Linked DNA regions of Homo sapiens. The protein of the gene in region 1 interacts with the protein of each later gene in a biochemical or structural test. Each region holds a gene or a part of one and is shown on either strand. Other genes may lie near its edges.

The links.
Region 2: the proteins of KHDRBS1 (region 1) and FNBP4 form a complex in vitro, tested with the Homo sapiens proteins (2 studies listed by BioGRID and IntAct, with this or other methods).

Annotation. Positions count from the first base shown.
Region 1 is NC_000001.11:32,011,995-32,015,745, reverse strand, and holds the start of KHDRBS1 (KH domain-containing, RNA-binding, signal transduction-associated protein 1), read right to left. Parts: upstream 1,879-3,751; 5' UTR 1,751-1,878; coding exon 1,369-1,750; intron 1-1,368. UniProt on the Homo sapiens protein: Recruited and tyrosine phosphorylated by several receptor systems, for example the T-cell, leptin and insulin receptors. Once phosphorylated, functions as an adapter protein in signal transduction cascades by binding to SH2 and SH3 domain-containing proteins.
Region 2 is NC_000011.10:47,718,595-47,722,345, forward strand, and holds part of FNBP4 (formin-binding protein 4), read right to left. Parts: intron 1,493-3,751; coding exon 1,335-1,492; intron 1-1,334.

The DNA of each region.
Region 1 (3,751 bases):
ATGCTAGAAAGAATTCATACATCCCAAACCAACAGTAACCTCAATCACATTTCTCCAATTTCAGTTGGGTTTAAAAAAAATACATCCAGAAAGCCCAAGTTAAAAATAAAGAGCACTCTCTTAGTTAAGCAGTGAGGGGAGACTGAAAATTAAAAGTAACTTTTAAGGATCAACAGTTTTTGACAGTTATCTTAAGAAAGCATAAAAGATGAACACCACACTGGTAAAGATCCCTTACCTTACAGTGTTGGGAGACAGAGAACAAAGGGAGGGAGATAATATTTTCATAATGAACTGTCCATTATATTAACCTTGCCAAAGAGTCCAACTACTCATTCAGTGTTGAAGGATGTGAATTTTTACTTGCTTAGTAAAATTTAGGTATCATAAAAAATATTAAAATAATATTTTAACTAGAAGCGAAAGTCAGACAGCTTTAGGGAAAAATCAGAGCGACTAGGTGATTGGCCAGTGCTGATGAGGAAAAGAGCGCTAACCTACAGAACAAAGACTCTCATTTCTAATCTATTTCACTACTGAATCAAAAATGTAAAAAACAGCAACAAAAAGGCCAAGCCTTTCAGTACAAGCATCATGCAACTTCTCTCAATTTCTGTCCATCTCGTTGGGAAACGTCATGTGAACTACGCGGGAGTCCCTATCGTCCCATTTCACTGTCTCTAGGGTTACTTCACTCCTTCAACGACAGTGAACACACGGTGTAAAATGGCTCAGTAGCAATTCTTATTTTATCAGCCTTAGTCGGAAATCTGATTCGGAAACCTCAAGCTCCGATCCACATAAATCGCTCCTTCCTCCCAGCAACTTAAGCTGCGGTTACCGCTAAGTCCGGCTCGGCCCCAGCGACAGCAAGGCACTGGACAGGGCATTCCAGCCTCACCCCACCTCACCTCGGCCCTTCCTCCCACGGTCCCTCCCCGCTCTGGCTGTCTTCACCTCCTACACCTCGGTCGAGGCGCTCATCGCCACCCGCGATCAAAAAGGGTTTCCCTTCAGGGAAAGGGGGAAATGAAGGTTCATTTCTGGAAGAATCTGCGCGCCCGGCAGCCGCAAGAGGAGGGAGGAGGGAAGAGTCGGGAAAGGGGCGGGGAGCTCAGCACTATCCATCAAGACATTAGCGCTAGGGGATCGCAAAGTCGCCTTCGGGCCTCCACTGCAGCCTAGAAATTCTCCCACGCACTCCGGGCTGAGGTGGGAATGTGGAATCCAGGCTCCCAAAAATGAGGATGAGACCGGAACTCCCGACTGCCTCGGTCCCGAGGGGGCGGGAAGCGAGAGGAACAAAGCCAGGGCCACTCATGCCCGGGATGGCCGGGCGACCCAGAGGGACACGGGAGGCCCCCTTACCTGCCGTCAGCAGCTGCATGGCGTGAGTGAAGGACGGGTCGAGCGAGTCCTTCTCGGCCATGAGTTCGGGCAGGTACTTGTTCTCTGGCTCCATCTTGACCGAGGCTGTGGCCGAGGGGGGCAGCAGCGGGGTCGGCGCTGGCCCGCCCACTGTCGCGTCGGGACCCGTGGCCGAGGGCGGCAGCAGCGGTGGCGGCTGCGTGGCGGGCGAGGCCCGGGCGCCCCCGCGGGATCCCCCTCCGCCTCCCCGGGACCGGTGAGGCAGCGGCGGCTGCCGAGACGGCGTCTGACGCACCGAGGGGTGGGCACCGGAGGGGTCCATGGAGCCGCTACGGCCCGAAGACCGGCTCATGCGCGCGGCGGGGTCGTCCCGGCGCTGCATCTGGGAGGATGTGCGATCCAAGGAGCGAGAAAGCGACGCGGCAGCGACGGAGGCCCGAGCGGCGGTTGGCGGGGGTGGCAGAGCGGGAGCGGTAGCGACCGAAGCCGACCCGAGCGACCCAGCGAGAGAGAGCACCGGAAATGAGGCGGCGCGCGTGCGCAGCCAGCCACCGGCACCGCCCTTGGGTTTCTCCGCGGAGAACAAAGTCCCCAGTCCGGCCACGGCGCCTGCGCACCGCCGCGGCGTCCGAGAAGTCGCCTCCCGACTCTGGCTTTCCCTCCGCTCCCGCCAGGCCAGAGCTTGATGCGCATGCGCGGGAGGCAGTGGGCTCCGTTCGTTTCGTTTTCCACGTGACTCGGCGCTAGCGGAACACGTGTCTCCTCCCCTTTCTGGCGTGGAGGGGGCGGGAGCTGTGGAATGTCTTTGTCTGCGCGCGGGCCCGCGGAGTGTGGGGCGGGAGACCTGTTACTCGCGGGGCCACGCCCTCTCCAACGGCTGAGCAGTGGAGGGAGGCTGTGGGGAGTGGGGTGGGGGGCGGTCACCGAAGTAAGGAAGTAAAAGACTGCCGAGAGGGTCACGGAAAGGGGAGGGAGAGAGAATTGAGACCGCCTGGGGAGGAAGACAGGAGTGAGACAGACTGCACAGGGAGAAAGGAAGGCTGAGGGAGAGTCTGATGCAGGGGGAAAGTTGGGGAAGGGAAACCTGGAGGGAGAAATTGAGGAAGGACGGCTTGGTGGAAACACTGAAGGCGATTGGAGTACTTGAACTAAGAGGGATGGTTCAGATCAGAGATCTGAAGTCTAGCAAAGAAAAGGGTCCCAGACATCAGGGAACACAAGAAGTTGTTTCCAGTATATATATTTCCAGTATTACATATATTCCAGTCGGTTCTAAAACGGTTGACATTGTTGGTACGGGAAATCTTAAGCAGCATTTTAGCTCTTTTTACATATTTTACTGCTTTTTCTGAATTGTGTTTGTTTTGTTTCGCCGTCATTATTGCCAATTAAGTGTTTCTTCCTTCAAAAAGTGAGGTAGAGACCAGATCCTTAATCCACGTTGGTTGCATCATTAGGATGGCTTCTTCTACCACTCCAGACTTGCTCAAAGAGACCCTTGCCACTACTCTCAAAGGCAAGGTACATAGTGGACAGTCGCCTACGACGTTCTCCACATCCTGGTGTGCTATATGCAAGTGGAGCCTTAGGTCCCTACTTGTCCCATAAGCCATCAAAAGCCTGGTGCCCTCTCTAACTTTCCCTTCCCTCCGCAGATTATTTTCTTCTTCCATTTAAAGCACTCACTCCCATCTCTTTTCCTTCTGGATTAGTTCTCCTAATGAGCCCACACTTTTCAAAAGTCTTTGGGGACCGGTGCGGTGGCTTATGCCTGTAATCCCAGCACTTTGGGAGGCCTAGGTGGGAGGATTACTTGAGGCTAGGAGTTCGAGAGCAGCCTGGACAATATAATGAGACCTCATCTCTACAATAAAAAAAGTTTCCGCCCGGCTTGGTGGCTCATGCCTGTGATCCCAACACTTTGGGAGGCCGAGGTGGGCAAATCACCTGAGGCCAGGAGTTCGAGACCAACTTGGCCAACATGATGAAACCCCATCTTTACTAAAAATATAAAAATTAGCCGGGTGTGGTGGTGCATACCTGTAATCCCAGCTACTTGGGAGGCTGAGGCAGGAGAATTGCTTGAACCAGGGACGCGGAGGCTGCCGTGAGCCGAGATCACGCCACTGCACTCCAGCCTGGGCAACAGAGCGAGACTACGTCTCAAAAAAAAAAAAAAAGGAAAAAAAGGTTTATTTGGAAATTGTCTTCTGAGTGCCTGGAAACTTGATTTTTGGATGTGAAGCTTAGAACCCTTTAACTAGAGAACCTAAAGGCCTTCTTTAAGGGGTTAAGGGAGAGGATTTCCAAATTACCCACAGAAATGAAAACAAAACACGTATCTACATAAATTATATATATATAATATAAAATATAGGCCAGA
Region 2 (3,751 bases), on another chromosome or scaffold:
TGGATGCATTAGAACCTTTAATAAAAACTAAGCTAGAACCTATCAGAGATTAATTTGAAATCTGGCATCAGTAATAGACAGCTATATTCTAGGTTATACACTGACAATTGATGAACAGTGAGTTGCAGTCAAAGAATGCTGCCCATTTCAGAATGTATACCTTCAAAACAAGGAAAATATGAAATAAAAAATTGTACTTGCTGTGTCTAAAGTCTTTAAAATTTCTAGAATTTTTGAGAAAGCCATCTTCTTGCCTCAGCCTCCCAAGCATCTAGGACTACAGGTGTGAGCCACAGTGCCCACCCAACATGTTTTTTTTTTTTTTTTTTGAGATGGAGTCTTGCTCTGTCGTCCAGGCTGGAGTGCAATAGCACGGTCTTGGCTCACTGCAACCTCCGCCTCGCGGGTTCAAACAATTCTTCTGCCTCAGCGATTACAGGCATTCGCCACCAGGCCCAGCTAATTTTGTATTTTTAGTAGAGATGGGGTTTCACCATGTTGGCCAGGCTGGTCTCGAATTCCTGACCTCGTGATCCACCCGCCTTGGCCTCCCAAAGTGCTGGGATTACAGGCGTGAGCCACCGTGCCCAGCCCAACATGTGCTTTCATCATAAAAAATATTTCTGACCTGAGTGTGGTGGCTCACACTTGTATTCCCAACACTCTGGGAGGCTGAGGTGCAATTACTTGAAGCCAGTTCTCCCTATCCTTTTATTCTAGTCAAGCAAGGTAGTGAAGGATTTTCTTACCTAGAAGAGGTTCATTTAGTTCCTAGTGTGGTGTGCTCTCTCATTAACTTCTGTTCTAGAATAAGTGCAATTGAGAAGGCAGCTCTGTATTCTACCCTGCTTGACTGAAATATAGGGACAGGGGAAAAACTTTATTCTAATTCTGTAAATCATTTGTACAATAATGTGTGTGTGTATAAAAGGGTCTAATTCTATAAATTATTTGTAAAATAAGTTAATATGTTATGTGTGTATGTGTGTGTGTGTGTGTGTGTGTGTGTGTGTGTGTGTGTATAAAAGGGTCCACTGGATCTAGATAGTAAATGATGTACTGAGAGTTAAGACAGGCCTTTGCCTAAGACCAACAATCAACTGGACAAAGTATTACAACTCTGTTGTTTCTGATTTTGAAAAAAGGCTAGCCCATAATTTCTATAAGGAATTAAACATGTTTATAAATTAGAAACCTTTAGATAAATTTACAAGCTGTGATTTTAAGAATATGTCTATTCTAATGCATCTATAACAACCACAACCTACTCCATCTCATAGTAGGTCTCAACCTACTCCAAAACCCCATCTCATCTGTGTTTCCTTTTCTTTTACCTAACCAGCTGCTGCTGTTTCCACTCTTCAATTCGCTTCTGTGCAGTTGATTCCCGATCCTCTTCACTGGAACTAGAATTGTCCTCTTCATCTAACTCACGCTGGATACTCTGCCACTTTTTTACCAAAGATGGCATTTTGGTCTTACTCTTCTTTGCCTGTAACAAAGGTTAAAGGTCAAAAGGAATAGAAAACATAAAATAAGGATAAGCGTCCTCTACAATGGAGGTCAGGATCCTTTTCCCAGTTCTAAAGAATATGCACACTTTAAAAAAGAAAGTAAATACCATTCTAAGTTCTTGCCATAAATTTCTTACCAATTATAAACAAAAAGGCTTGGTTAAAAATCTATAAAGCAGGCCAGGCGCGGTGGCTCAAGCCTGTAATCCCAGCACTTTGGGAGGCTGAGGCGGGCGGATCACAAGGTCAGGAGATCGAGACCATCCTGGCTAACATGGTGAAACCCTGTCTCTACTAAAAATACAAAAAATTAGCCAGACGTGGTGGCGGGCGCCTGTAGTCTCAGCTACTCGGAAGGTTGAGATAGGAGAATGGCATGAACCTGGGAGGCGGATCTTGCAGTGAGCCGAGATCACCACTGCACTCCAGCCTGGGCTACAGAGGGAGACTCCGTCTCAAAAAAATAAATAAATAAATAAATAAATAAATAAAATCTATAAAGCTTTGTAAATGCGGTATTTTATAAAATTATGTCATATAAACTTCCTTTAACCTCCCTATCCTATGTAATTCAAAATATTGCCTTTATCGCGTCTCAGAATTACAGTGTTCCCGTTTTCAAATTTTAAATAGATGCAGTGTTCCTCCCAAGTGATTTAAAAAAAAAAAAAAAAAGCTAAAAAATAAAGCTGGAAAGAGCAACAAAGCAAACTGCCATATTAGCCGGGGGCGGTGGCGGCGGCGGTGGGCGACTGTAGTCCCAGCTGCTTGGGAGGCTGAGGCAGGAGAATCGCTTCAACCCGGGAGTCAGAGTTTGCAGTGAGCCAAGATTGCACCATTGCACTGCAGCCTGGGCAACACAGTGAGACTCTGTCTCAAATAAATAAATAGCCATAATTAAATATGAAAAAAAGCAAACAGATTTTTAAAAATATCGGCTGGGCACGATGGCTCATGCCTGTAATCACTTTGGGAGGCCGAGGCGGGAGGATCACGAGGTCAGGTGATCGAGACCATCCTAGCTAACACGGTGAAACCCCGTCTCTACTAAAAATACAAAACATAAGCCTGGCGTGGTGGTGGGCGCCTGTAGTCCCAGCTACTCTGCACTTCAGCCTGGGCGACAGAGCAAGACTCCATCTCAAAAATAAATAAATAAATAAATAAAAATAAATAAATAAATAAAATAAAACATCAATGGGGCGAGGCATGGTGGGTCACACCTGTAATCTCAGCACTTTGGGAGGCCAAGGTGGGTGGATCACTTGAGGCCAGGAGTTTGAGACCAGCCTGGCCAACATGACAAAAACCCACCTCTACTAAAAATATAAAAAATACAAAAATTAGCCTGGCATGGTGGTGCACATGCCTGTCGCCCCAGCTACTCAGGAGACTGAGGCATGAGAAGTGCTTGAACTGGGAGGCAGAGGTTGCAGTGAGCTGAGAGCATGCCACTGCACACCAGCCTGGGTGACAGAGACTCTGTCTCCCCTCCCCCTGCCAAAAAAAATCAATGATACAGTTAGTTCTAAGAGAAGGTATAATGATATAATATTTTTTCTTTTCGCTTACCTTCATTGTCTAAATCGTCTATAATAAACATACAGATTTTTTGCCCCTTTTCTTGAGACTCCGTTTCAAAAGGTGGTATTTGTAAATGTGGTATTTTATAAAATCAGGTCATATAAATTTCCTTTAACCTCCCTACCCTATGCAATTCAAAATATTGCCTTTATCTCGTCTCCTCAGAATTACAGCGTTCCCATTTTCAAATTTTAAATAGATGCAGCATTCCTATCAAATGATTAAAAAAAAAAAAAAAGCTAAAAAATAAAGCTGGAAAGACCAACAAAGCAAACTGCCATATTAGCTGGGGGTGGTGGCGGATGTCTCTGACTCAAAAAAAAAAAAAAAAAAAAAAAAAAAAAAAAAAAAAAAAAAAAAAGGAAAAAAAAATATTTCTCATAGATTTATTTTTCCCTTATCTACTCCCAAGCCACCCCCTGCCAGAAGAAAGGTTCTACAAAAGCAGAGGGTTTTTTTTTTTTTTGTCTGTTTGATGTACTGCTAAATCCTAAGCCCCTAGGGAGAGTATCTGACAAATATATTAGATATTGATAAGACCAATTTTTATCCCCGTTTTTCTTTTTTTTTTTTAAGACAAAGTTTCACTTTTGTCACCCAGGCTGGAATGCAGTGGTGCGATCTCAGCTCACTGCAACCTCAGCCTCCCAGGT